2 separate regions of the Homo sapiens genome follow, and region 1 is linked to region 2. Evidence: fine-mapped expression QTL. A gene starts in region 2. The other region holds a variant in brackets. All regions are shown on one strand. Distances are from middle to middle.

Region 1 (16,320 bases), 24 kb before region 2:
CTTTCCTCCCTTCTGAACATTATCACTTTAAAACAGCAGGACTCAAACTTGCATTGAACTATATTCTTTGTGGGGTTTTTAAAACCTTCATTACACAATAAAGAGCTATTGTGAAAAAAAATCAGAAAACATAAATAAGCCAATAGAAATTCATCATTCAGAGACACTGGTGTACATATCATGCAGATATATTTGTTTTTATAAAAATGGCACCACTATGAATCTTCCGTGTGAAAATGTCATCAACATTATTCCATGTCAATATGTTCTCTAACAAAACCATTTAATGACTACTTAATATTTCACTTTAGGTATGTAATATGATGTACTTAACAAATCCCCTATTATTGTAAATTAGAGTGGCTTTCTATTATACTTTAGGCTATTATAAAATCTGGCAGTGAAGACGCTTTCTTAAAATATATTTACATGTATATTTGTCTGATGGTTTCTTTAGGACAAGTTATTAGAAATGGAATTGCTAAGCCAAAAGGCATTTAGCCCACCACCATCCCCCTTTTAGGTCTTTTTATTCATATTGCCAATTCATCCTCCAAAAGGGTTATTCTAATTTACTCTTTTTATATATCATTCAAAAAAATATTTATTTTGTGCCTACTTTTGCTAGGCACTATCAATATAATCATCGATAACAAAACGGACGCAGTCCCTGCCCTCAAGGAGCTTCCAATTTAAGGAAGAGAGAGACACCCACACCCACATTATCAGAGATTCTTCATTATTTTAAGTTGAGGTAAGCTAAAAAGGAAAACTGCAAGATCACAGCAACTTAGAAGAACCCAATACACCCTGAAGGATCTGGAAGAGCTTCCATGAGGAAGAATGGTTCTGGGCTGGGGGCTAAGGTTTTCTGGTATAAATCAGGTAAAAACAGGTTCTAGAGAGCCTTGGAGAAAACATTCTAAGCAAAGGGAACAGTGTGGACAAAGCCGCTGGGAGGGAAAGGAACACAACCCATTTGAAAACATGTAAGCAGCTCACTGTGGCTGGGGCACAGAGGCGGTGGAGAGACAAGGCAAGAGGCCAGGCCACATGGGCCTTCCAGCAGAAGTAGTGTGGACTTCCTGCACTCTCCCCCACTTGTGAGGTATTCAACACCCATGTGCTGAAACAGTCATATGGCGTCAGAGCCTAAAGAACTAACAACTCAATAATGACACATGTATTAGTCAGTTCTCACACTGCCATAAAGATACTACCTGAGACTGGGTAATTTGTAAATTACAGGGGTTTAACTGACTCACACTTCCATATGGCTGGGAGGCCTCAGGAAACTTAAAATCATGGAAGAAGGCAAAGGCGAAGCAAGGCACATCTTACATGGTGGTAGGAGAGAGAGAGAGAGTGTGAAGGGGAAGTGCCACACTTTTAAACCATGAGATCTCATGAGAATTCCCTCACTATCACAAGAACAGCATAGGAGAAACTGCCCCCATGATCCAGTCACCTCCCACCAGGTCCCTCCCTCAAACACATAGGGATTACAATTCGAGATGAGATTTGGGTAGGGACACAGAGACAAGTCATATCAACACAATAAACTGTAAGTCAGAAAAACAGATGTAAATAAAGCTGCCAAGCTACCTTGCATAAGGAACGTACTTTCAATCTGTTCCCAAACATTTACACTTACAATATCATGCCATGTGCTTTAAACAATATAATCAGCTAAATACATTGGTTTAATATCTTGTCTAAAATATCTGCATTCTTTGACTTTAACAAATAATATGTTAAGGCTGAAAAATATTAAAAAGTATTTAAAGTTTGTCAGAGAAGCTTCATACTCATATTTTACTTAATATAAAAAAAACCACATATGTTACTTAAAGTTCTACTCTGGAGAAAAAGCTACCCCCATAATCTTTCAGTGACTGTAATTGGGCAAGTTCTCTTTATTCTGACTTGGGTTTTCTTCTAGATAATCTTCTGCATGAATAAAAGTTAAAATCAGTGTTTTTGTATTTTTTAAAATCAAAAGAAGACATCAAGTACTCCGTGTGCAGTGTTTTAATTTATCCATGTACATAGGCAATTATCATAATTTGAAGGACACTTTTTACTTATTAGACTATAAGAAAAACTGTACAGAAAGTTTATACTATAAAATTACATCCCTAAGTGATTAGGGTCCTCAGTAACACAGAAATAAGAAATTGAAAAGGGTCATTGCTCGGCAATCCACATAACTACAGAGTAGAGCGCAAGCTATTGTTCGTGATCAGAAAGAGACTTCATAAAAACATCTTCACATATTCCCTAGCATTATGCCCTACTAGTAAAAGGAAGGCCTATGACAATGCCATTGTTTATTTTGTGTAACGCAGCCCTTCTATTTCCCTCAAAAGTTTTTTTTTCCTGCTATAAGATAAAGAAAAGGCTGTATCCCTAAGATATATACCTAATGAAGATTATCTCAACAGAAGCTCCAACGTTTTCCATTTTTCACTGTCTTTCCTGAAGTTCACCTGGATGTTCCACAGCAATTTTCTAACCCTTTCATTGTTGATTAGCCTACTAAAAGTAGAATTCTTTAGCAACACACAATACAAAAGACACAGGCTAAAACAGGCCTCACAAATACACTTTGAAATAGGTATATTTGGATATAAATATAACTTTCCAGTCCATTATTTTTTCTAATGACTAAACTCTAAATTTTTAAAAATGGAAGTTTTCAAACCAACGATGTGTTAAGCCCATTCTCATGACACATTCATTTTAACTTCTCATCTGCAAAACATAACGCAATAAATTACCAAAGAGGAAGAAAAAAACATGAAGCTCACCTGCCTTATAAAATGAAAACCAAGCATTACAAGACATGTAATAGCAAATACTAAGCTACACATTTTTTTTCTGAGCAATTTTTTAACTCTTCTTGATCCTAAAAGTCACAAAAGATCAATGTAGAAAATTTGAAAAATATTCTGAGTTTTTAATTAATATTCTGAGGTTTCAATTAATATGAGGTTATTTCTAGTAGTATATTTTCTATTATACATAAGTAATTGGGTTTAAAACAAGCATGTGACAGCATACTTTTTCTTGAATAAAATTAGGATATTATATTTGCATTTTTATCTTTTGTTTACTTAGCATACGGCATGTTAAGCATCTATGACATTAAAAATCCTTCTAAAACATGGTTTTAACAACATATCACATGGATGTGTCATGATATATTTAACCATTTTCCCTACTCTAAGACATTTATGTTGTTTCCAAACTTTTAACATAATATGACTATCATAAAGATATTCAAAACTCATACTTCTGATTATTTTAAGATGTATTTGTTAAAAGTGAATTTAATATGACCAAAACCACCCCCATCTCAAAAAAACAGACTGTTCTACCAGATTTTAACCTAGTCAAAAGTCACAACAATTACAATCACATGGTATATATATTTACAAATAAATGTTTAAAATCATAAAAACTTCAATGTCTAAAAATATTAGAAATAACAGGAAACAGAATCACTATTATGTTTCAGTACATACTTTTAGAAAAAGAAATGTTAACTTAATCACCATGCTATATACTTAAATCTCTTCCAAATGAATCAGAGAACACAGAACCACATATTGGTACCAGAAGAAGATGAAAAATTATCAACTACTTAAGAAAAAGAAAATATCTGAGAGAATGGAAGGGTAAGCCCAGTCCAGGACCTCAGGACGAAGGCCTTTCCTCCAATAAATTACAAGTAATATAGATCGATCTCTGTCTCTCTCTCTCTCTCTCTCTCTCTCTCTCTCTCCCCCTCTCTCTCTCTCTCTCTCTCTCTCTCCCCCTCTCTCTCTCTCTGTGTCTCTCTCTGTCTCACAGAGAACAACTTAAATTGAATTATTTTTTTTCTTCGTTTCAAGCCTTAATATCCATTTTTAAATTTTCTGAAGCAAACAAGAATGTTGTTATAATAGTTCCACACACATAATAGCTAGCTCTCAAAACTCAAGGAAAACTAATCTCTTAGAAGTTCAAAGCCCAGGCCAGGCGCAGTGGCTCACATCTGTAATCCCAGCACTTTGGGAGGCCGATGCAGGCAGATCACTTGAGCCCAGGAGTTCTAGACCAGCCTGGGCAACATGGCAAAACCCCATCTCTACTAAAAATACAAAAAATTAGCCAGACATGTTGACACACAACTGTAGTCCCAGCTACTTGGGAGGCTGAGATGGGAGGATTGCCTGAGCTGAGGAAGTTGAGGCTTCAGTGAGCTGTGACCATGCCACTACACTCCAGCCTGGACGACAAGCATGGGAATCAAAAAAAAAAAAAAAAACTTCAAAGCCCAAACCTTGAAACGAAATGCTCATATTTAAGATTTCAAAAATAAAGACAACTTTTTACCCTTTTAATACTTACTCAGTATGGGAAAATTTTATTTCTTCCCTTTGTCTTGCAGAATAATTTAGGTTCCCACCTAAAACACAAATAAACATAGATCTTTTCCATATAAGTATTATCAGTAAGTAAATTTCAACCATACATACATACATGCAACCATTTGCATAGATACACTGTATTTTAAGTAATAGAAAAAGCTATCGACGATGAAAAAGTAATGGTTTATCTACTGGAACCTTCCCAAAGGGAAAAAATGAAATTCTTGTGTGATATAAATAATCACCCCTTAATTTAAGCATTTTTTTAAGTTTGGACTTATGTATTGCTTCAAGTGTTGTTACTTAGGACACTGTATTAATATTCAATAATAGTGAAAATTAAGAGAAATTAAAGGAAATGAACAGGTGTGGTAGCTCACGCCTGTAAATCCCAGGCTAAGGCGGGAGGATTGCTTGAGCTCAGGAGTTTGAAACCAGCCTGGGCAACATAGGGGGACCCCATATCTAGAAAAAATTTTAAAATTAGCTGGCTGTGGTGGCATACACCTATAGTCCCAGCTGTTTGGGAGGCTAAAGTGGGAGGATCACTTGATCCTGGGAGGTTGAGGCTGCAGTGAGCTGGGATCGCACCACTGCACTCCAGCCTGGGTGACAGAGTGAGACTCTGTCAAAGAAAAAAAGAAAAGAAAAAAAAAACTATTAAAATAAAAAAAAAAGGAAATGACCTGAAATTATTTACACAGCATATATATTATATTCTACTAAATATATAAAACTCTTTAGGAGCAAGCAGTTAGAAAAATTACTAATGACAACATCAAAATCTTATCAAGAACAACAACAAAAATCCACTAATGCATACAGTACGAATTAGCAAAAGAAAAAAAATCTGTAATTTCTAATTCTAAACCAAACATCTTGAACCTTAAAATGTAAATTATAGCTATAAATTTGCTTAGTTCTGATTTCTTTTAACGTAGGACAATAACACAGAGGGGCTTTAGGTTACTTTTTAAATGCTATATTTCTTTATGTTAATATAAAAATAACATCTAAGATTTTATATTATTAAGAAACTCATCTGGCTAGATTTTAAAAAATGACAGCAATCTTAATAAATATGAAGGCCCAGAAAACATAATTATATATTACATAATCAAATGTGTTTCCATCATTATGAACAGAAAGTCATTACTGCATGGAATAAAGCACTGGCCCCCAAAGAGGCAGACCCAGAGACCCCACAAGATGATCCACTGCGGTTTAAGAAGCAAATATCAGATCTTCTACTTACCCTGGGCACGATTCACCAAATAGAGTAAGACCACAGATAAAAGTGACACTAGGAGTGAAAAAACATAGGGCCCTTAAAATATGTATTTCTTCTCAATGATTCCTATGTAATCATAATCACAAAGCAAAGCTTAGACACAATCAAACCTTTATTAATTGCTATTTTAAATAAAAATATTATTCCCATTATTTTATTTTCCAAAAGCACTAAAAATAAGTTACACACTATTTTCTCCAAGGGCTACTCAGCCCAGGGGTGGCAGGCCAGAAACAAAGAAGTTGAGGCCCCTAGAAAAAAGGGAGCCGACCCAGCCACAGCCCAGCCCTGCCCCTCTTTCCTCTCCCTTTCTCAGTGCTGGTCCTTTGCAGGACTTACCAAAAACTCCTGCCAGCCCCCGATTGTTTATCATTTCAGAGGAAGCCAAATAGTAGTCTTTTGGGGGCTTTAAGTCTGAAAATGCCATGTCCATTTTACAAATTTCAAGTAACCAAACATTAAAATGTGATCATTAGACTCAAATCAATCAAGACCTCAAAATTCAAGTTTTCCCTTGGCTTTTTCCTTTAATAAGTGAAGAACACTGTTTAATTTACTTTAAAATAATAGGGCAGGCCTATTATCTTATTATTTTGATTCATGCCTGTAATCCCAAAGGCAGGAGGAGCGCTTGAGGCCAGGAGTTCAAGTCCAGCCTGGGCAACACAGTGAGACAGCATCTTCACAAAAAAATTTAAAAACCAGCCAAGCATGGTGGTGCACACCTGTAGTCTTAGCTATCACGGAGGCTGAGGTGGGAGGATCACCTGAACTCCGCAGTTCAAAGTTACATTGAGCTGTGACTGCTCCACTGCATTCCAGTCTGGGTGACAGAGACAAATCCTGTCTCTAAAAAAGTAATAATAATAAAATAAAATAACAGAAAAACATATTCAAACGGCACACTGTTTGCTTTGAGACCCAAATACATGTTGAACTGTGGACTGACATTTAACCACATGCTGCAACAACAAAAATAGACAAAAAACATTTTATGATTTAATGTCTGAAATTCTTATATGACCCACTTTTTTAAACATTTATTTTTAAAACTTGACGTCCTTGTTTCTAAAACAAGCACGTTTATTTATGAGATAATAAAATGCACTCAAGGCAACTCATAAGCAATTATCTGCAAATACCACACTTCAGGTATGGATGGTCTTTATTCCCTATAAATGAAA[A/T]CAAAGTTTGATAAAATCATCACTGTGGTTTGTCATTTTAAGCACAATATTGAACTATAAAAGACATCTTGATGTGTTAAGGAGAATTTTCTTTTCAGATAAACACAATTTATATGTAGGGTAAAGATTACCTATGGACAAATGCTATTATTTTTATATATTTTTCAAGTTTCCTAATGCTTCCAATTTCAAACCAATGAAATTACAGGTAAAAACTAAATTACGGACTAAAAATAAAAATCAGTTAAAACTGCCTAATGAATAACCATGAGTACTCACACCTAAATCACACCAACGTTTCCACATAGTCACATTAAGGATATACTCAGGACTCTTCAAATTGTTCCACTTTAAGTGGGAAAATGCTTTTTTTTTTTAAACTGTAAATAGTTAAAACAGAATATGAAACCAACTCAATCACTGCCTTTAAGGATAGGAATCTCCTAAAAAATGCCTGTGAATCTTCAGAGGGCTAGAAAGTCACCAGCTATGAAATTCTAATTCACAGGTGAGAATTAGGCAAATCTGGGAGCTATGCCTAAGTAAAAATAAGAACATTCTGTTATGTAGTAAAAGAAACAAAATGTTGTCATACGGAATACTCACAAGAAACACAGGCAATGAAGAACACTTCCAAAAACAAATACCCCCGAGAATCCAGTATCATACCAGCAATGATGGAAATGATGGCCAACCCAAGATTCTGAATGGACTGCATGCTACAATGGAAGAAATATAAAGACACATTTCATTTTCAAAAGTCTTCACACATAGGCTAACACTTCACTATAAATATTAGTATCTGTGAACCATATACTATTTGTGTTCAGAGATGTTTTCCACCAGGGATGACTTGATTAGATTTTGGATTGGTTTTTATCCCATAACTATTTCCACTACTAGACTGCTCAAAGGTAAGGGAGCTTGTCTCATTAAGTGCAATGTGGATTCAATACCTTTGTGCTGAATGAAAGAAGGGCCATGTGAATATCAACCACAGGTGCGGTTTCCCCCCTCTGCCTTTCTGTGCCAGGAACTGGACTCAGCTTCTCACTAAGAAGCCTCACATAAACAGGCAGGGAGATTATAATGTCAGCAAGGACCTCTTCTGGGTTAGCTTACTCCAGCCCTCTTGCTGGAGGCTCTTTTGTGGCCACAACAGTATCTTAAATAGATTTACTGACTTTTCCAGTTATCTCCAGGTTCAGCGCTACCCCAGAGGCTGGATGACGACTAGATTCAGATCTGGAGTTTTATATGATAATTAAATTGACATAGCAGAGACAGACATATACGATCCACAGCGTAAATACTTACAAGCCATATGCAGTTCCCAGCTGATGTTCAGGAACTACAAATGCCACCATTGGCCACAATGCACAGGCAAGCAATGAGTAGGAGAGTCCCAGAAGACACTACAGAAAGCAACGCAGAAAAGGTCACAGTCTTACATTAACCAAAAGGTGATTTTCCTTTAATGCAGATTAGCAAAAGTGACAGAGTAGTTAATATATATATATTCAAGCAAATTTTGTTGTTATTAGGCTAAAATTCGTATTCAAAATATACAAAACAAGTCTCTGCCCTAAGAGTATCCTTTTAGCGACAAGATACATGCTGTCTTAACCATTTTCATTTGTCATCATATTATATGCATATGTAACTGGCTGGGGCCCAAGATGCAGTCAAGGACCAAGTAAGAAAATAAAGGTAATTTTTAAAAAGTTCTTACCAATGTTTCAGGCAAGCTAATTTTCCAGTATTTATTAGGAGTTACAGATTAGGCAATCAAGGCAATATCATGCCAACAGTCCATCATCCTACGTCTGAGCCACCAATACCCAGTAATCACCACCAATGCTTGGTAAACCTCACCTAATGCTGATTTTTTCTTCAATTAAAAAAGAAATATTGTGATTTAAATTTAAATGAGTATCACTTATAACTATCAGATTGGCAAAGATTAAAACAATGACAATGCCCAATACTAGCAAGGATACTAAAAAAAGTCACATTGTATATTACTAAAGTTATAAATGGGTAGAAAGTTATCGGAGAAAGTTTCACAATCTCAACCAAGATGTTAAATACGCAAACCCACTGCTGTAGCATCTCTACTTCTAGGAGTCTGTACTGTATCTGTTGAAACACTTCTAGAGAAATGCCCACTCACTGCACAAATATTTATGTTCCAGATATTCCTTTATTAACAGGTAGGAAATGCAGCACTAGAGCCTCGGGTCTTAAAAATGATGTTTTGAACAACAATAACAAAAACTTGAATTCATTATCACTTTTTAACCTACTAAGCAAGTCAAAGAAAAAGAAGAGTTACTGGTCCAACAGATTTTTGGTTTTTTGCCATCTATGATGGAATGCCTTCTTTTAAGTCACCTATTTTAGAAAAACAAATGGGACTAATAAGCATTCTGGCTTTTATAAGGCTACTTTATTTCAAATTCTCTTTCAGCACTGAAGTTAACTGGTTAAATAAATCAAATGAAATTAAAAGATACCTTATATGTTAATAATTCATAATTATACTTTAAAAAATAATTATTTTGTAGATATTGGAATCAAGTTGTCATCTCCCCACTATCATAGGCCTTGTCATCTGAATTTGCTGAGCGTGCCTACTTAGATGAACATGACAGACTCCTTGCTGAAGCCCTGACCCCACCATGGGCTAACACAGACGTTACCATAGCAATCCAAGGGTTCCACATCGTAAAGGCCAGCATCATGTGGGACACAAGAGTGGCTGCTACTGCGCAAAGAACCCAGATGATGTTCTTCCCTGTTTTATCCACCAGGAGCCCAAACACCGGGGACATGGGAGCTGATATGACATATACAACACTGCCCAGAGAACACATAAGACATTTCATGAAATGCAACACAGTCAAACATCAGTTTCAAGAAAGTCTTGAAAATATCAGGCAAAGCAAATCCTAACTCATTTAACATTCTTATAAAATGCTCATCAAAAAATATAAAAAGCAGTTCAAGACTTCTTTGGTTTTCCACTAATTTAAACACAGCCACTCAGGATTCAAGTCCCAATGTAGTCCCAGTTTCGCACTTAAAAAATATTAGGTCACATACATCTTTTTTGCTTCTTTTAACATTTGATTATAAAGACCCATACTTCACATGCAATAGGCACTTACAAAATTAATTTTAAAATACCTGTTAATTGCACTTGCTGCCTGGGAAGAAAATCCAAATTTCTCTGTAAAGAAAACTCTAAAATTAAAAAGACAGAGAAATTAGCACATTAGAGAGAACTACTCTGTTTTCAAAAAATAAAGTTGAATAAAAATAACTCAAGTTTAATCAGCTTCTTTCTTGATATTATTCTCCCACCTTATTTATATTCACCTTCAGGCAATCTGCTAAAGCTTCAGTATTTATATTAATGTTTACTGACTAAATGACATATGATGCATATTTTTTTCCTTTTCTGGTATGCAGTAAGGAATACACACAAATTTTCAGAAAATCAAATATACTACCACAGGGACTTAAGGCTGCTTCTTTTCCTTAAAAGCAGTACTGAATGGGTTCTTTGCTAAATAATAAACAGGGTTCTTGTCTGAAACTATTTAAAAGGACAGCCTGAACTCAAAGGGTATAAACCATACCCTTACACAAACACACTTACATTGCGCTGCTTAAGCAGCTGCCAATGAAAAAGGAGAGAGAAGTAGAAGATAAAGCAAAGAAGAATTTGCTTTGAACCCAGAATTTAAGTCTGGCAGAATTACAGTCCTAATCAATGGAGATGTTCCCAGGCACAGTGCACCAATAAACAGTCTCCATTCTCAGTAAGAGCCTTTCTAACCAAGGAATAAAGAGGGAATGAAAAAGAATACTAGTCTAAAATCAACTATTAAATCAATATTATGAATCAAAAATTATTAGGTATTGACATGGTTTGGCTGTGTCCCCATCCAAAGCTCATCTTGAATTGTAATCCCCGTAATCCCCACCTGTCATGGAAGTGACCCTGTAGAAGGTAATTGAATCATGGGAGTGGTTTCCCCCAAGCTGTTCTCGTGATAGTGAGTGAGTTCTCACGAGATTTGATGATTTTATAAGCAGCTGGCATTTCCCCTGCTGGCACTCATTTCTCTCTCCTGCCACCATGTGAATGAAGAATGTTTGCTTCCCTTTCTGCCATGGTTATAAGTTTCCTGAGGCCTTCCCAGCCCTATGGAACTGTGAGTCAATTAAATCTTTTTCCTTTATAAATTACCCTATCTGGGGCAGTTTTTTATTAGCAGCATGAGAGTGGAGTAATACAGGTATTTCTTCAAAAGAATAATAAAAGTATAAAACCAATACTAAACCTTAAGCTAAAAGAAAATGTATATCCCAGGATCTAAAGTAATTCCTGTGAAAATATAAACTATAACCAGAGAAGCAAGATTTACTGCTTTAAAAACTACATTTATGTGATTGAACTCTCATGATAATTTAGACAAGAAATAATGGAAACATAGAGAATACTCACTTCCCAAGTCCAATAAAAGGGAACACAGCAACATAATAGCAGACACAGATGATAAATATAAGCCACAGGGGTAAGGAGAAGTCCTTTACATCAGTTAATTTAATAACTTCACCTTAGAGAAGAAAGGGAAGACACTATCAGCATAATTTTGCATACCTAAGGAGCTTTCATCTATAGTCAAGATTATTTTTTAAAATCTTGTGATTAATCTTTGCAATTCAACTTAAAAAAATACTTTTCTAGTAAATTACACAAACATCATTTCTGGGATAACTTACAAAGACATAAGAAAAAGCAAAACCTAAGACTAAGACTGGCATCTACCTTTCCTGCTCCTTTCCAAGAATAACCATTTTGCAAATATACAATCGAGAATGTAAATTCTGCCAAAAGATTTAAGGGGAAAAGAAAATACATCTAAAAATTTAGAAAAGTGGAAATCAATTTGGAAATAAAAAATAAAAATCATGTCTTAAGCTCCACCTGGTTTTACAACACTTCATTAGGAACTTAGATCTCATTATAAAATCTCACAAAGGCCGTAATTCCCCTAAGTCCCATTCTTTCATTTAGACTTACCTGTTTTTCCTTGTTCTTTATGAAGGATTCTCTCTGCTCTCTGATCCAAGTAGGCAAGAGCCAAGGCACAGATTAGTGAAAGAATACACGTTATACCCCCTAAATAAAAAAAAAAAAAAAAGAAAAACAGACTTTGAAAAGAGAACCAAACAGAAGGTTCCTAAGGAGAAGTACATTACATAAACAGCAAAAACAGCAACTGAAAGGGATGTCACATAAAGACACGAGAAAAATCTGCAATTACTAAATCGGGACAAAAGAGGAAGAGTACATTCAAATACTCAGCAAACAGTAGTAGCTTTTACTGCATTATTTCACAGTTCAAAGTTAAAGATTAAAAGGAAAAGACTAGAAAAAACTAGTCTAGTCCTGTAATGCAGAATACAGACTGAAGAAAACTGATGAGCAGCTACTGATGTAGTCCTCATTTCTTCATTCAGTCTAAGCACCAATTGTCAATGGACACCAGGGAAAAAATGATGAAGCCAAGTTAGGCTCTTCATCTCTCTTCCTTCCGATGTTTTCCCAGAGTCCACGGCCTTCGCTCCTGCCCTCTGGCAGCCCAAGTGCCCCATCCTCCCAAAGCGCAGTACTCTCAAGCTCTTTCCTGTGAGATCAGCATTTCTCTCTAATACCAATCTCATATCACTACAGAAAATCAGGATAAAGAGTGAATAACGATACACTTCTCAGGAAGAATTTCCAAAAGAAGCTTAATAAAATAAATGAATCTTTAATTCACTGCCCTACCACAGCCCGGTTGAAAATTCGCTGAAATGAGCATCAGTAGACGTGAGCTCTAACGAGCTGAATCACCTTGGACATGGAACACAAGCTCTCTTGGATTCAATTTCCCCAGTTTTAAATAAGAGGATTTGACCTGATGATGGCACAGGTCTTTTCTGGCTCTAAAAGTCTTACTCTAAAATTTCCCATTGTGGAGGAAATTAGATGGAATACTAAGAAGCTTTTAAGAGTAAAAAGGAGGTTTTAAGTAAGGCAAAGGATTTGAGAGGGAGAGTTTGAAAGAATCTTTAAATATGCTTGCCTGCTTAGGATTACCACTCCACTGTCTTCTTTTACCAGGCTGTATCGACCAAGGAATTATAAGGAATAAAACACAGAAAGACAAATACTATGCATATGTGGAATAAAATATATATATATATTTTAAAAACCTGATCTTATAGAAGTAGTGAGTAGATCAGTGGTTTAATTAGAGACTGGGGAGGAGATTGGAGAAAGGAAGACAGGTAGACATTAATCAAGGGGTACAAAGTTACAATTAGGAGGAGTAAATTCTGGTGTTCTATTGCACAGCAGGATGACTATGGTTAACAGTAAGGGATTATACATTAAAAAATAGCTAGAAGAGAGGGTTTTGAGTGTTGTCACTACAAAAAAGTGATAGACGCATGAGGTGATGGATATGCTACATACTCTGATTTGATTGTTACACAATGTATCTGTGTATGGAAACATCAAATTGTACCCATAAATATGTATAATTATGTGTCAATTTAAAAATTAGGGAAAAAGGGAATAAAAGATGTGCACATCTTGGGCACAGAACTTTCACCCTATCATCACACAGGTCTCTCTACAGCCCTGCAAACAGCCAAATGCACACCACAGGGTTCAGTTAGACAAACTGCCTGCCCAGAGAAAAAGCAAAAGTGGTAAACCCAGAAGGCTTCGTGCCCTTCCCAGTGACCCACCCAGCAACTAGCACCATGGAGCCATAGCTAAGAGAACTTAGGGACAGTAGTGACCTATATAGTCTTGTTGAAACAACTGTAATTATATTATAATAGGATCCAAATTGAACAGGAGATAATTTCCTTAAAAGACACTACAAGAAAAAGAAATTGAACAGGAGGTAATTTCCTTAAAAGACACTACAAGACGTCAGGTAGCGTGATGCCTCCAGCTTTGTTCTTTTGGCTTAGGATTGACTTGGCGATGCGGGCTCTTTTTTCGTTCCATACGAACTTTAAAGTAGTTTTTTCCAATTCTGTGAAGAAAGTCATTGGTAGCTTGATGGGGATGGCATTGAATCTATAAACTACCTTGGGCAGTATGGCCATTTTCATGATATTGATTCTTCCTACCCATGAGCATGGAACGTTCTTCCATTTGTTTGTATCCTCTTTTATTTTATTGAGCAGTGGTTTGTAGTTCTCCTTGAAGAGGTTCTTCACATCCCTTGTAAGTTGGATTCCTAAGTATTTTATTCTCTTTGAAGCAATTGTGAATGGGAGTTCACTCATGATTTGGCTCTCTGTTTGTCTGTTATTGGTGTATAAGAATGCTTGAAATTTTTATACATTGATTTTGTATCCTGAGACTTTGCTGAAGTTGCTTATCAGCTTAAGGAGATTTTGGGCTGAGACAATGGGGTTTTCTAGATATACAATCATGTTGTCTGCAAACAGGGACAATTTGACTTCCTCTTTTCCTAATTGAATACCCTTTATTTCCTTCTCCTGCCTAATTGCCCTGGCCAGCACTTCCAACACTATGTTGAATAGGAGTGGTGAGAGAGGGCATCCCTGTCTTGTGCCAGTTTTCAAAGGGAATGCTTCCAGTTTTTGCCCATTCAGTATGATATTGGCTGTGGGTTTGCTATAGATAGCTCTTATTATTTTGAGACACGTCCCATCATGCTACCTGACTTCAAACTATACTACAAGGCTACAGTAACCAAAACAGCATGGTACTGGTACCAAAACAGAGATATAGATCAATGGAACAGAATAGAGCCCTCAGAAATAATGCAGCATATCTACAACTATCTGATCTTTGACAAACCTGAGAAAAACAAGCAATGGGGAAAGGATTCCCTATTTAATAAATGGTGCTGGGAAAACTGGCTAGCCATATGTAGAAAGCTGAAACTGGATCCCTTCCTTACCCCTGATACAAAAATTAATTCAAGATGGATTAAAGACTTAAACGTTAGACCTAAAACCATAAAAACCCTCGAAGAAAACCTAGGCATTACCATTCAGGACATAGGCATGGGCAAGGACTTCATGTCTAAAACACCAAAAGCAATGGCAACAAAAGCCAAAATTGACAAATGGGATCTCATTAAACTAAAGAGCTTCTGCACAGCAAAAGAAACTACCATCAGAGTGAACAGGCAACCTACAAAATGGGAGAAAATTTTCGCAACCTACTCATCTGACAAAGGGCTAATATCCAGAATCTACAATGAACTCAAACAAATTTACAAGAAAAAAACAACCCCATCAAAAAGTGAGCGAAGGACATGAACAGACACTTCTCAAAAGAAGACATTTATGCAGCCAAAAGACACATGAAAAAATGCTCATCATCACTGGCCATCAGAGAAATGCAAATCAAAACCACAATGAGATACCATCTCACACCAGTTACAATGGCGATCATTAAAAAGTCAGGAAACAACAGATGCTGGAGAGGATGTGGAGAAATAGGAACACTTTTACACTGTTGGTGGGTCTGTAAACTAGTTCAACCATCGTGGAAGTCGGTGTGGCGATTCCTCAGGGATCTAGAACTAGAAATACCATTTGACCCAGCCATCCCATTACTGGGTATATACCCAAAGGACTATAAATCATGCTGCTATAAAGACACATGCACATGTATGTTTATTGCGGCACTATTCACAATAGCAAAGACTTGGAACCAACCCAAATGTCCAACAATGATAGACTGGATTAAGAAAATGTGGCACATATACACCATGGAATACGATGCAGCCATAAAAAATGATGAGTTCATGTCCTTTGTAGGGACATGGATGAAACTGGAAATCATCATTCTCAGTAAACTATCACAAGGACAAAAAACCAAACACCGCATGTTCTCACTCATAGATGGGAATTGAACAATGAGAACACTTGGACACAGGAAGGGGAACATCACACTCTGGGGACTGTTGTGGGGTGGGGGGAGGAGGGAGGGATAGCATTAGGAGATATACCTAATGCTAAATGACGAGTTAATGGGTGCAGCACACCAGCATGGCACATGTATACATATGTAACTAACCTGCACATTGTGCACATGTACCCTAAAACTTAAAGTATAATAATAATAATTTAAAAAAAGAAAAAAAAAAGTCTACTTGAAAAGTACAAGGAAATAGAAACAGAAAATGATATAAATAATATCTGTATTTTGGTAATTATGGTACCTTTTCTACCAAACATTTTTAAATACACATTTTTATATGCATGTGTATATATGTATGTTATTGCTATTTTCTGATTATGGGAAAGAAAGATACAATTCTATATGCCTATTTTAGGAAGGGTAATAAATGCTAGGAATTGTATTGAGCTC
Region 2 (14,124 bases):
ATAAAATTTCTATTAAGAGTTTAGGATTGATTCCAAGGAATTTTACAGTAAGTAATTTTAAGTGGTTATAATTCTTGATAACTAAAACCAATTTTTAAAAGGACAAACACCAACCATGTTATACAAATCTAACATCCTACAATCTGGACATCAGATTAATGTTGCCCTAGAATAATAAAATGCCAGTATTAGAAGAGTCCTTAAAGGCCATCAGGGTAAACCATACTTCTTAAACTTAAATCTCTCTCAAGATCCTTGTGAAATGACCATGCCATGTTCTACTGAATGTTCTCTAGCAATGTTCTCTAGCACTGGAAAACTTACTATGGTTCCAAGACAATTCTTGTCATCTCCTGCCAATCTGACCAAGCAAACTCCTCATATTAAAAGGAATCTGTTCCCCAGAAGTTTCAAGCTAATTCTCTCTCTTGAGATCAAAAAAAATAAATTTAATTCTTCCTTCATATTTTAACTCTTCAAAAATTTTAAAGGTTAGTCCCCAGGTGTAAACTCTTAAAGTTTCTTTAATCTTTATCCACCAGACATGGTTTGAAGACCTTTCATCATCTTGGTCTTTGCCTTCTGAAAATATTCCCAGTCTATATTCCTCTTCAGTTCCACTAACAACATACACACAATAATAAGGATGAACAGTGGCAAACCTTATAGTGTTATTCCCTGCTCAGCCTCTAACAGAAGTGGTCACAAAATGTTTTACACCCCAAGAAAAGCAGAAATAGAAAATCTCACCGGGGCTGGAGGAAGCACATACTACCTATGTGCCAAATACTGTACATCCATCTCTCACTTAATCCTCATAACCACCTTGCAAGGTAGGAATCATCTATATTTTGGCAATGAGAGAACTGAAGCTCAGGAAGCTGCAAACAGCTCAGAACAGCCAGGAAGATGAGAAAGTGGCAACGATAAGATTCAGAACCTGGTTTACCTGATCCCAAGGGTGAGTATAATTTTCCTATGGATAACTGAGTTACCTTATACCATCAGCATTTACTAGTCCTGACCTTAACTGAAATACCACGTTTCAAAAACCAACTCCAGAGATATAAAAATCATTTTTTTAAAAAACTCAAGCAAATTATTAGTTAATACAGAAGTTTATTCAGCTCTTTCTAGAAATACCTTAATCTAGCTCTGTATTTTTCTAACAATCAGGTAAGATTTACCCATAGTTTCTTTTCAAGCTTACCGTATTCCAAATACTCGGTCTATCAAAAAGCCACCAAAGAAACACAAAACTACATTGGGCCAAGAATACCAGGCATACAGCAGCATGAATTTCGTGGTATTCACTTGCATATCCTATATGAAAAGAAAATAAAACTATTTTTTTCCAAACAGTTAAGTTTAGCAACTAACAAATCAAAATATGACAATCTAAAGTGGAAAGTAGTTACATTCTTCTTTCTGTAAAGGGCAAGTTTTTTTTAACCATTTATAAGTCTCACTAACTTCCTTGAGAATCTCATGAAAGCTATGGCCCCTGGCCCAGGAAAATGGTCACACCTGGGAACCCTGGGAACTTCTTGAGTTCACATGCCATTTCAGGGGCTTCCTGGATTCCAGGATCAGACACCCTGCTACAGGGACCACTTCTGTCTGACTATAACTTCTATATACTACCTGCACTGGGGACTCTGCCCACATATACAAGGATAATCTTAGCCTATCCCTACCTACCCTACCCTCTCCATCCCCTCAAGCATGCTCCTCCTACTTCCTTTCTCTTTCATTCTAGAATGAAAAGGGTCAACCTATGCATTTTCCCTGTCCAAAGGTTAAAAAGAACCTACAAAGAAAAGAGACTAAATACCCAAAAAACTGTAAATATCAAGTATGTTCTTACAATACAAAACCAGACTAAAAATCCTGACATGGACAATCCTCTGCAATCAGTATCCACATTTAAAAAACAAAATAACAACTAAAACCTATTTAAGAAGGCAAAAAGCTATCTTAACAAATCATTTGTCATTCGGGTGACTAAGCACTGGGAGAGTGAAATGCAAACAAAAACCTGCTCATATTTTTGACAATACTGTGGAAATACCACATAATTATTTATCTAAGGTCTGAAACAATTTCAAGTCACATATGTGCTATAAATGAATTATTTGTGGTAACTCATTTCAACTTAAGAACACCCCTTGCAACTTGTGGATTTGGTGACTACAGATGTCAAAATAGATTCAGCGGACACGTGAGACTAGGGCACCTGAGGGTTGATAATGCCTCCACCGCTACACTTGCTCTAAAGAAAACAAAAGAAACAAGAGTGAAAAATCAACTTACTCGTTTAACTTGAGTCTGAAGGGCAGCAGGATTATCATAGCAAAAATAGCTGCCTAGAAAAGAGCAAATACTTTATAAGTAATAATACTTCCCATATAAAAGTTTCAAGTTGCAGTTGCTACTGAAATTACAATTTTAAATGCTGATACTACGGGTTGACACTACAGAAATATTTCTGAACCACTTCCTTATCCACCAGTATTTTCTAAGTTATATCAAATAACTTCCATAAATTGGTAGTGTTCATACACAGCAAATACTGGGAACCTGAATTAAAAAGTCAACAACCAACAATTAAATATTTTTCTATTTTACTTTCATCATGCTTCACACATATACTATTTTATTAATATCTTCATGAAGCATCTATATTTTATTTATTTCCTTATTTACAAACACACATACACTAAAAACTTTACAACCTCATCAGTTTCCTAATAATGTTAGCTTAAGGACAAAGGAATGGAGTGTAACCATTCTGACAAAACCAATATTTGAAACAAGTTCTCTAATTCTACAAACTACCCAAAATCAAATAATTTAGTGAATACAGGGCCAGGAGTGAAAAAAAAATGAAACTGAGAATTCTAAAGGATTAAATTAAAACATGTCTTTGGGGGAACTGGAAAGAGAGAAGTAGGGAGAGATCTGACCATGCACTCGGATTTATTTTAAAGATAAAATAATTGAGATTCCTTCGTAGGCTACAAGAAAATATTGCCTCCATAGCTCTACTAACTCTACAAGTGCACGAGGCTATTGGTTCTAATGACAATAAAAACTGTCATTAGAAAGGAATGAATCTGGCTTCTGAATTCTAGGCAGATAACCAGAATTTACCAAAAACTGTCTGTCTGCTTGAGTGGGGACCATTTTTTTTAATGTTTTATTGTTGTTCTTTCTTTGTTGTGGTGGTGGTTGTTTCTAAACCCTGCTTTAATCTCTTTTAAGGATTCAACGTCCTGCTTTAAAGCTAATGGATGGGCATCATCTTTTAAAAAACAGGGGAGGGGGGAAAAAGGAGTTGCAAGGAAACCAAAGCCCAAAGCATCCTTCATGTCTACTTATATGTTCAGCGCTAGAATAGTTATCCACCATAATGTTCTTAAACCTGCTGATTACACGGGCTCCAGCTAGCCTCCTGAAAAACACATTCATACCAAATTAATATTAGAATTTTGCTTAATAAATTAAAAACTGTAACATAGGAAGGAAAATTTTTTTCTAATTATCAAGAAACTGTTTTCGGAGACATCAGATTTCATAAGAGAAACCAACCACTGTCAAGACTACCACAAGTCCCGTCCAATATGATTGCTTCACAGTGGCAGAGTGGAAGATTAAGAGAACAATATCTATTCACTGAAGCTATCAGCAAGACACACTCATACATTTTCTCAAAGAGGGTGAAAAATATATAGAAGACTGCCGACGAAATCATTCACGTTTTTTAAAAGCTGGACAACATTGTAAGACCCTGTGTCTAAAAATAATAATAATAATAAAGCCGGGTGTGGTGGCGCCCCATCTGTGGTCCCAGCTACTCGGGAGGCTGAGGCGGGAGGATTGCTTGAACCCAGGAGGTGGAGGCTGCAGTAAGCCACTTTCACAACACTGCACTCCGGGCTGGGTGACAGAGCAAGCCCCTGTCTCACCTAAAACCAAACAAACAAAAGTTGTTTAGGAACAGTTAAAGCTTTCTGAATTTCCTCCGACCACGTGTGCCAAAAGAGGAACCTTGAAAATCTGGAGTTACCTTCATATCTATCGCCTCTAGGGCGAGTCGCTAGCCCCTGGGACTTACTGAAGAGCAAAGGAGTGCCACAAAACTCGCCCAGCTCAGTCCCTCGACCTCCACGTTCCGGACGCGGAGTAACTAGCAACATCCACAGGTGTGGCTGGAATCGATCGCAAAGGGGAAAATAAGGAGGCCCAGGAGCTTAAGACAGAAGCTGCGCTGAGGCCCCGTGGCACCAGTGACCACGATGACGATCTACCTCGAAGAGAAAGTCGGGAATTCCTTAAAGATCAGCCCCAACCCACCCGGCCGGCTCACCAAAGCCAAGGAAGCACATCAGTAACAGCACCAAAAGCCGGTGCGCCAGGCGACTGGGGTCGCAGAGGGCCGGCAGGGCTCCAGGGGCGGCCGGGGCACCTCTGTCGGCCTCGTCAGGGCCGCCTGCCAGGAGCGCCCGCGCTTCCTCATCCTCCTCCTCCATTGCGCCCGCAGGAGACGGAGAGGGGAAAGTGGTGACAACTCCAAACCCAGGCAGGAAGCAGCGCCCGTGGAACACTGTCAAGACGGCGGTCACATGACTCCGGGAGCTCACGTGACGCCCCGGCAGGTCACGCAGGGCCACGCCCATGTGAGCGGCCGCGAGCGCTGGGAGGACGGACCCAGCGGTCGATGACAGGGCCTGGCGCGGTTCGCTTTTCCTGGGTGACTGTGTTCGTGGGGCTGAGGCCCTCGAGGTGCCCACTTCCAGCTTTCCACCAATTACTGCACTGTCTTTCCGTTTCCTGCCCCGCTGACGCGTACACCTATTTCAGACTCAGCGCAGCTCCGCGGGGAGAAAAGTGCGGGGCTCCCTCTCGGCTCCACACCAGACTCCGGAGTAGTTCGAACTGCGCTGGGGTCGCCAAGACGCGCGCTGCCCTTCTCCCAGCACTGCCCTCCCCAGCGTCTTTGACCACTCTTAATACCCACAAACTTGATCGGACAATTTCTGGTGTGTCCAGCCATGTGTCACGTACTGGGAATACAAAATAGAATGAGGCAAGCTCCCTGACCTCAAAGATTTCAGAGTTCAGTTGGAGAAATCGACAGAATCTGGTACTTTTAAAACTAAACATGATGAATGAATGTGGTGAGAACAGCGGCAGAAAATGGCACTGAATTCCATAGAAATATCTGGAAAGGTCATTTCAAAAGGGGAGAAAAGGTGCGTAGTTTAGCCAGCTTTCAGGGCAAGGGAGTGAGGGGCGCTGAAGCTCCTTGAAGTTGAAACCCAGGCTAGAATGAGTAAGAATGCGCCAGTCAGGGTGCTTGTTTGAGCGGGTTGGTTGCAGGGCGGGCAGTTACGAGGGATAATAAAGACAAAAGCGTGAAACAGAACTGGGTGTGTATGTGTTTGTGTTGAACGACAGAGAAGGAACTCGAGTAGAAACACTAAACCTGTTTCAAGAAGAGCCATGCAAGGATTTTGAGCACAGCAGCAGGACTGCAAGCTTTGTGTTTTAAAAAACATTCGGTCTGCCAGCACAGCACCATCGTCGCTTTCTGGGAGCCCTCAGGCTTTACTAACAGAATTTTGAGGGCGTCAAAGCTAGAGGCTGAAAACTGTGAGGATTATTAGGAAGATGCTGCAGTCGTAACGATTAGAGATGACGAGGGCCTGTTAGCAATAAAAAGCAGGAATGGCACAGAAGAAAATCAGTAATTATTTAGGAGGTAAAATGGGAATAACTGTAAATAATAGCCTATGCGATCTGAAAGAGAGGAAAGACTTGAGAGTGTCTCCCAGATTTCTAGCTTGGGCCGCCAATAGAGATCAAAATTTAGAGAGAGAAGGAGGTAGGAGAGAGTGTCAAGGATCAGGTGCTGCCTTTGAGATGTCTATACATATCTCCACTTTCACAGTCCATTCTCTCTTCAGCTCCAGTGGAGGAGCTCCCGATCTAATAAAACTGTCTTGCCGAGAGGAGTAATAACTCCATCTTTCCAAATACATTAGTCACTTCTCTGTCATCTTACTCAACTTCTATCAATTGATGGAATTGACAGCCACTCCTTTTTAGCCTCCTTGGCACCATACTTGCCTTGTGTTCCTCCCACTTTGCTGGCCTATCTCATTTGCTGTCTCATTTGTCAGCTCCTCCTCTTCTATTCAAAATCTAGATGTTCAATGATGCAAGACCCATTCCTGAGCTCTCTTCCACTCATCCATTCCCATAACTTTAAATACCCTCCCTCTGCTGTCCAGTAGGTAGCCATGTGTGGCTGTTGATCATTTGTAATGTGGATAGTTGGAAAGGAGATGTGCAATACGTATAAAATACACACCAGATTTCAAAGACTTGTATGAAAAATAGAATAACCTCCTAATTTGAATACTGATTACATGTTGAAATAATATTTTGCAGATATTAGGTTAAATGTATATATATTAAAACTGGCCGGGCACAGTGACTCACGCCTGTAATCCCAGCACTTTGGGAGGCCGAGGTGGGTGGATCACCTGAGGTCAAGAGATCGAGACCATCCTGGCCAACATGGTGAAACCCCATCTCTACTAAAAATACAAAATTTAGCTGGGCGTAGTGGCACCCGCCTGTAGTCCCAGCTACTCAGGAGGCTGAGACAGGAGAATCACTTGAACCCGGGAGGCAGAGGTTGCAGTGAGCCGAGATCGCGCCACTGCACTCCAGCCTGGTGACAGAGGGAGACTCCATCTCAAAAAAAAAATTATATATATATAATTTTATTTTAGTTTATATATATATATGTGTGTGTGTAAACTAATTCCACCCATTTTTACTTTTTATGTGGCTGCTAGAAAATGTAAAATTACCTATGTGGCTTACATTGTATTTCTGTTTATCAGTGTGGATTTATATGCTGTTGCCTCTAAAATACCTTCATTCCAGACTCCTTTCTTCAGCCTAAGACTACCATTCCAACTGTTTATTTGATATCACGTGGATGATGTGGATGACTAATAGGCATCTCAAACTTATCACATTTAAAACAGAATCCTTGAGTTCTCTCACCCATGCTATACCTATTCCTCCCTAAGTGTTCCTTAGCAAAGTAAATGGGACATCTCTCTACCACTTGCTATCCGCAAGTCTAGCAGTCATCCTTGATGGCTTACTTCATCTCCTACATCTACTCCCTCAGCATGTCTTGTCAACTCTCTTCCAAAATATACCCTCATTGTGCATGTTCTCCATCACTACTCCTCTTACCAGAATGATCTCTCCCAGACAATCACAACAGACTCTTTAAATTGTTTTATTTTGCTTAATTTTGATGAGAGATACATCTGGTGTATATCATTCAAACAGTACCAAAGAGAATAAAGTTCAAAGCGAGTCTTTCCTGCCTCCCTATACCCAGTACTCTTGGGAAGTAATCATCATTATCAGATTATTTTGCATCCTTCCAGAGTTACTACACACAGTTGTTTTTCTTCCTTTCAGCCCAGCAGTGTGGCCTAGAAATTGTTCTTATTCTTGAGGACGATCTTGGAAACAGTCTGTTTGCCACACCATCCTAATCAAGCTTGTTACCAGATTTTTGGTCTTTGCAAATATGATCAGTGAAAATTTGCTATCATAGTGCAGTCTCAATTTATATTTCTATTATATTGAGGAATATTGAACCTCTTTTATGTGATTAACAGCCACTTATATTTGTTCTAGGAATAATCTTCATATCCTTTGCTTATTTTTCCAGATGAATTATTGAGGCTTTTTCTTATTGATTAAATAGGCTCTTTGTTGCTGATAGGAGCTGCATATATTTATTTTGACTCTGTTTACGGTAATATTTCCATATAGTTTCTAATGCCAAACTCTCTTTTTATTTTATAACTCCAGGGGTTTGCTTCTCACGCAAGATTTTCAACAGCCTCAATTGGTCTCTCTACTTCCGTTGTTGCATTTCTATGATATGTTGCCCGCACAACAATCAAAATGATCTTTTTAGTTAGTTTGGAGCTTTGGTTTGTCAAGGAATTATGAGTCAACCATCAATATTTGAACTAAAAGAAACAAAACTGGGCCAGGCACCGTGGTTCACACCTGGAAACCCAACACTCTGGGAGGCTGAGGTGGGGATATTGCTTATACTCAGGAATTGGAGACCAGCCTGGGCAACATGGCGAAACCTCATCTCTCCAAAAATACAAAACTTAGCCAGGTGTGGTGACATGCGCCTGTAGCCCCAGCTGAGGTGGGAGAATCACTTGAGCCCAGGAAATAGAAGCTGCAGTCAGCCGTGATTGCACCACTGCACTCCAGCCTGTGTGACATAGCAAGACCCTGCCTCAAAAAAAATAAAAATAAAAAAAAGCAACGAAACTGGATTTACTGTGTACTCTAATAAGGAAAAGCTATGCTGGGTCGGCACAGTCTCCCCAAGCAGAGCTGGCTGCTGATGCTCTATGGAGCTTTGGGGAATACAGAGTTCAGGAATAGGTGCATTTCAGAGGCAAAAGGGTTTGCCATCACCTGTAGAAGAGTAGATATTCTGGTAAGACTGTTATTAATTCTCCACTGAATTTATTGGAGTGAACCTGTCATTGGCTGACTTTGAGAAAGGAGGGGTTTTTCAAAACAAGTTTTACTGAGGCAGTTGATTAATTGAATGGGTTTAAAACTGGTTCTAGGAGTGTGGAAACTTGCTTTAATTCTCAGGGCTTCAAAAAATTATTATAGAAATGTGAAACCTACAGAAAAAAAAAAGGTAAAAAGGTAATGTACCCACCAAACTGAGCATCCAGAGAAGGACACAGGAAAGAGCTTTTTAGTCAGTGCCAACTCCCCTGTGCATGCCTGAGAACTTCTCCTTGGGGGCTTGCCCTTCCCAGGAGTTCAGGCTACCTGGTTACCTTGCAACCCAGCTGTGTCTGATGGTTTCAGTTAAGGTTGTGACTTTGTAGTTCATCTGAGTTTTTCTCATTATTGAGAAAGGAAAGATGTTCATTGCAGCTTTTCATATCCTAAGCACAAAAGAAGTCTTTCGTCTCAATTTTAACAGTACATTAATGGGGTATTACCCTTTTTCTCCCAGTTTCACAGTTGTCTTTTGTCTTTATGAAGTTTTTGGCTTATTTGTTTTGTCATGAAAAGGGTTTTTTTTAGAATATAGTCAAATTTATCAATTTTTTCTTTTATTGCATCTGGATTTTGAAACATAATTAGAAATCCTTTCCTTGTACCCAGGTTAAAGAAGAATTCACCCATTTTTTTTTCTAGTACTTGTATGGTTTCATTATTTAGATTTAGATTCCTGACCCATTTGGAGTTTATTCTTTTGCCTAGTATGAGGTATGGATCAAACTTTTTATCTTTTTCTAAATGGCTAACCAATTGTTAAGTCCATCTTTGTCCAAGTGATTTGAGATGCCACCTTTATTGCATACTAAATTCCCATATGTATTTGGGTTTACTTCTGGACTTTCTTTTCGGTTGTACTGCTCTTTCTTGTCATGCACAAGGACCACTGTTTTTATTTTAGAGGCCTTAGAATATGTTTTAGTGACTGGTAGATGTAGTCCCCTTTCATAGCTTTTATTTTTGTTTTCCTGGATATTCTTCCATATTTTTCCACCTGAAATTAGTATCAGCTTGCCTAGCTCCATAAGAAAACTGGTATTTTTTTAATGAACTTTGAAAATTAACTTAAGGAGACTTTAGTTTTTAATGTTAAGTCATCACATACAAAAAAAAAAAGTGGTGTTCCAGTTTTTCAAACTATTTCATGTCTTTTGAGAGTGTTTTAAAGTTTTCTTCATATATATTTTACAAATTTCTTGTTAAATTTATTATTCTTTGTTGCTTTTGTAAATGTAGTTTTCTCTACCTTTATGTCATGTTACTGATTATGTATGTGAAGGCTGTTGATTTATGTATGTTAAGTTTATGTCCTGCCAACTTATTGAATTCTTCTCTAGTTTGACTTAGTTTTGCTGTTAATTTTCTGTGATATTCCAGGTGTACTGTCATACCATCTGCAAAGACAAAGAGTTTTACTCACTCTTTTCTAGTTCTCCTGCCTTCAATTGATTTCTCTTTACTAACTGCAGTAGTGAGTATCTCCAGTTCAATGTTAAATGGCAGTGAAGATAGTGTACATTCTTCCCTTAGACCTGGGATAAATATTAAACAAACAGAAGAGAAAGGAATGCTCTTCCTTGTAATAGAAAGCCAATCAATACATGTAGAAGGAATGATGGAAATATAAAACCACTGTTTGCTAGGCATCATCATAATATCTGATCCAGGCAAGAATCAGTAGTTACTAAAATTAGTGGATAAAAGTTTGAAGTGTAAAGGATATATGCATAATCTCAAAGTAGCTCCTCACCAGAGATTTATTAATGACAAAGGAAAAAATAGTGCAGAAGCCTGGCCCACATACGTGAACCAAGTGATCATAGTTAATACTACCAGTATTGGAACAAAGTGACATTATGTGCCCCCAGATATGCACTGAAACTGAAAACACAAAACTCTGTGATTTACCTAACAAAAGCTCATCATACCTAAATCTCAGCATAAGGAAACATCAAACAAACCCAAATTGAAGGATATTATACAAAATAACTGGCCTGATTTCTCAGTGTCATAAAAGACTAAGGAACTGCCCTGATTAAAGAAGACTCCAGAGACATAACAGCTGAATGCAACACATGATCCAGGATTTCTTTGGCTATAGGGAACATTATTGGGACAGTTGACAAAATCTAAGTTCTGTAAGTAATTTGTATTCTGTCAGCATTTATTTTCTGATTTTGACTACTGGACTGTGGTTATAAAAGAAGGTACCTGTGGCCGGGCGTGGTGGCTCACTCCTGTAATCCCAGCACTTTGGGAGGCCAAGGAGGGCGGATGGATCACCTGAGGTCAGTTCAAGACCAGCCTGACCAACATGGAGAAACCCCATCTCTACCAAAAATACAAAATTAGCCGGGTGTGGAGGCGCATAGCTGTAATCCCAGCTACTCGGGAGGCTGAGGCAGGAGAATCGCTTCAAACCAGGAGGCGGAGGTTGCCGTGAGCTGAGATCAAGCCATTGCACCCCAGCCTGGGCAACAAGAGCAAAATTCAGAAAAGACGAAGACGAAGACGACGAAGACGAAGACGAAGAAGAAGAAGAGGAGGAGGAGGAGGAGGAACTTGTTTTTAGAAAACACATACTGAGATATTTAGAAGTCAAAGGACATGTACATATATTAGATATATATGTATATGGAGAGAGAATAAAACAAACATGGTAAAATGTTGCCATTTCAGGTGTCTGGGTAGAGGTATGTGGGAACTCTTTTTACTAGCCTTACAACTTTTCTGTAAATCTGAAACTATATACACCACACTTTGACCTCCTAAGAGTCTTGTGCATCTTTGTATCTCAAACATCTAGAACAGGGCCAGCTTGAAAACTGCTTAATAAGTGAATCCCTTAAATCAGGAGCACGTTACACCACCTAGTGGTGTAACAAAGGAAGCTTACTGCTGTGGAAAAACCTGTTCCTGTCCACAATGAACTTGCTCATTCTAACTGTGTTGACCTATTATTAGCCAAACAAATTGCACTTATTTTATAATTATCAAGTGATGGGAAAGTGAAAGCAATTTGGGGTGTAAGTATAGGCTTTATCATCTTGGACACAAGGTCACTAGACTGACCAGCCTGGTTTCACAGGTGTGGGGGTGGTTGCAGCCTCTGGAGCAAAGTTAGCCACACAGACAGAAAAGAGAATAGGGTAACTCCTAAAAATCCAAGTTCTGGATTCAGTCTTCATGTGCATTTACTTCCTACAACTCCTGAGTGCTGTGTGAGCCAAAACATTCTCTTTATCTTCATCCTTCATATTGGAAGCCAAGATGTAAACCCCTTCAATGCCTTCTTTTGTCTCCCCGGTCTACCCCCACCCCCACCTCTCCCCACCAGCAGTGCAGGTTTCTAGTATGGGACAAGAGAGGAGTGTCTGGTTCTGCTTGGGAGCCCAGAAGCAGTGAAAAATGAGCTTGATCTTGAAGAATGAAGAAGACTGGGAGTGGGGGTTGGAGGGGCAGAGTAAGGGCATTTCAGGCAAAAACAACATCATATACAAAGGCCTTAGAAAGAGATTCTGACTCTCTCAACTTCTATATTAGCTTCATCCAACTCTACATAGAAGATGTGCAAAGACAGCCTTTGAAGTCTGGTGAAAATAACTGCGTTGATTTGGATCATGGGATTAGACGTTGGTTTACTTCCATATAGTGACTCATGAAAAATAGTTTATGCTGACTTATGTAATCACAGGAATGAAAAGTTTTTGTATTATTATGTAAATGAAGTACCAATTTTAAAAGAAAAATATGTACTCTAGGAGTCTAAGGCTGTCCTTATATTTTAGAGCCTAACTGGCAAAACTAGTGGCCAAGATAGCAGGAAAGTGTCCACTGAGAGGTCTAGGGAGTTCATGTTCTCACTCCTAAGTGACTGCTAAAAAATGTGAACACATGGCCATAGAGAGTGGAATGATAGATGGTAGAGACTCAGAAGGGTGAAGGGTTGGGAGGGTGAATGTGAGAAATTCTGTACTGAGAAATTACTTAATGGGTACAATGTACATTATTTGGGTGATGAATACCCTTAAAAGCCCTGACTTGACCACTGCATGATCTATGCATGTAACAGAATTGCACCTGTACCCTATAAATGTTTACAAATTTAAATAAATGAATAATAGATCTGAAAGAATGTTTATGTGCTTAATAAATACTGCTTTTTATTGTACACTAGCCCCCGCCTTATCCTGGGGGAACACTTTCCAAGACTCCCCAGGTAGATGCCTGAAACCATGGAGTGTACCGAACTCCTATGTAAACTATGTTTTTTTTCCTATACATACATACCTATAATAAAGTTTAATTTATATATTAAACATAGTAAGAGATTAACAATAATAACTAATAATAACATAGAACAACTGTAATGATACACTGTAAAAAGAGTTATGTGAATGTGGCCTCTCTCCCAAATATTGTATTGTACATATTTTCTTATGTTGATGCAAGATGATACACTGCCTACATGATGAGATGAAGTGAGGTGAATGATGTAGTCATTGTGACAGCAATAAGCTACCATTGACCTTCTGTACTCCTGAATCCGTTTAACCATCCCTTACTTGCAGTAAATGGCTTGATGTCACTAGTTTTAGGGGATCCCTTGCTGAAGTCTTCATGTAGCTGAATGCTTTTTGGCCTAACATTGCCATCAATCAGAACACATTTTCTCTTCATGTCTTCCACCAATAAATGTAATACCTTTTCCATTTAACTAAGCACTTGGCACACAATGGATGGCCATAATTTTTGCAGTTTGAGATGCAACAGCAAAACTAGCATGAATTTCTTTTTTCTTCTTCACAATTTCACAAAGAGAAGATTCATTCTTATCATAGATCTTAGCAACCCCAGCATACGATTTTTTTTCTTTCCTTATTAAGTCGAAGACTTTCACCTTTTCACTTAAAGGAAACACTTTATGGCTTCTTTTTCACATATCCGAATTGCCATCATCTCTACTCTTGCACTTTGGAGGCATTTTTATTAAAATAAGGATTACTTGAACACAAGCACTACGATGCTGCAACAGTTGATCTGATAACTGAGACAGCTACCAAGTGACTCACTGGCGGGGAGTGTGGAAACAGTGGATGCACTGGGCAAAGGGATGATTTCATACTGGGAAATCATGATGATACGCGGTATGGCATGTAATTTAAAACGTATGAATTATTTGCTTCTGGAATTTTCCATTTCATTCTTCTGAACTGAGGTTGACTGCAGATAACCAAAACCATGGATAAGGTAGGACTACTTTTGTACATCAAAACGCGTAGGAATCATTTACATTTATTTTTATTCAGTTCCAAGGAAATAATTTGCTGTTTTCCTCATTTGTTTATAGCAAACTTGAGTTCTGAAGGAGCAGAATAAATAATTCCCTGGAATTTCAATACAAATTAACGACTGAACAAAGATTAGACAGTAAAAAAAGTTCCTTTTATACAGACCTCCAGACAGGCA

The links.
Region 1: its variant is fine-mapped to the expression of MFSD1 in whole blood (INTERVAL, PIP above 0.99).

What each region holds. Positions count from the first base shown.
Region 1 is chr3:158,815,413-158,831,732 of GRCh38, reverse strand. MFSD1 (major facilitator superfamily domain containing 1) reads right to left here. Exons shown (of 16, transcript NM_022736.4): 8 at 11,986-12,084; 9 at 11,407-11,518; 10 at 10,080-10,136; 11 at 9,593-9,749; 12 at 8,208-8,305; 13 at 7,497-7,609; 14 at 5,671-5,718; 15 at 4,396-4,453; 16 at 2,017-2,754. The coding sequence ends at 2,751. Among named protein-coding and RNA genes, the nearest start is that of MFSD1, 22 kb to the right of the region's middle. The variant A/T (reference allele first, on the strand shown) is at 6,891.
Region 2 is chr3:158,792,561-158,806,684 of GRCh38, reverse strand. MFSD1 (major facilitator superfamily domain containing 1) reads right to left here and starts at 4,631. Exons shown (of 16, transcript NM_022736.4): 1 at 4,370-4,631; 2 at 2,314-2,366; 3 at 1,211-1,323. The coding sequence starts at 4,532.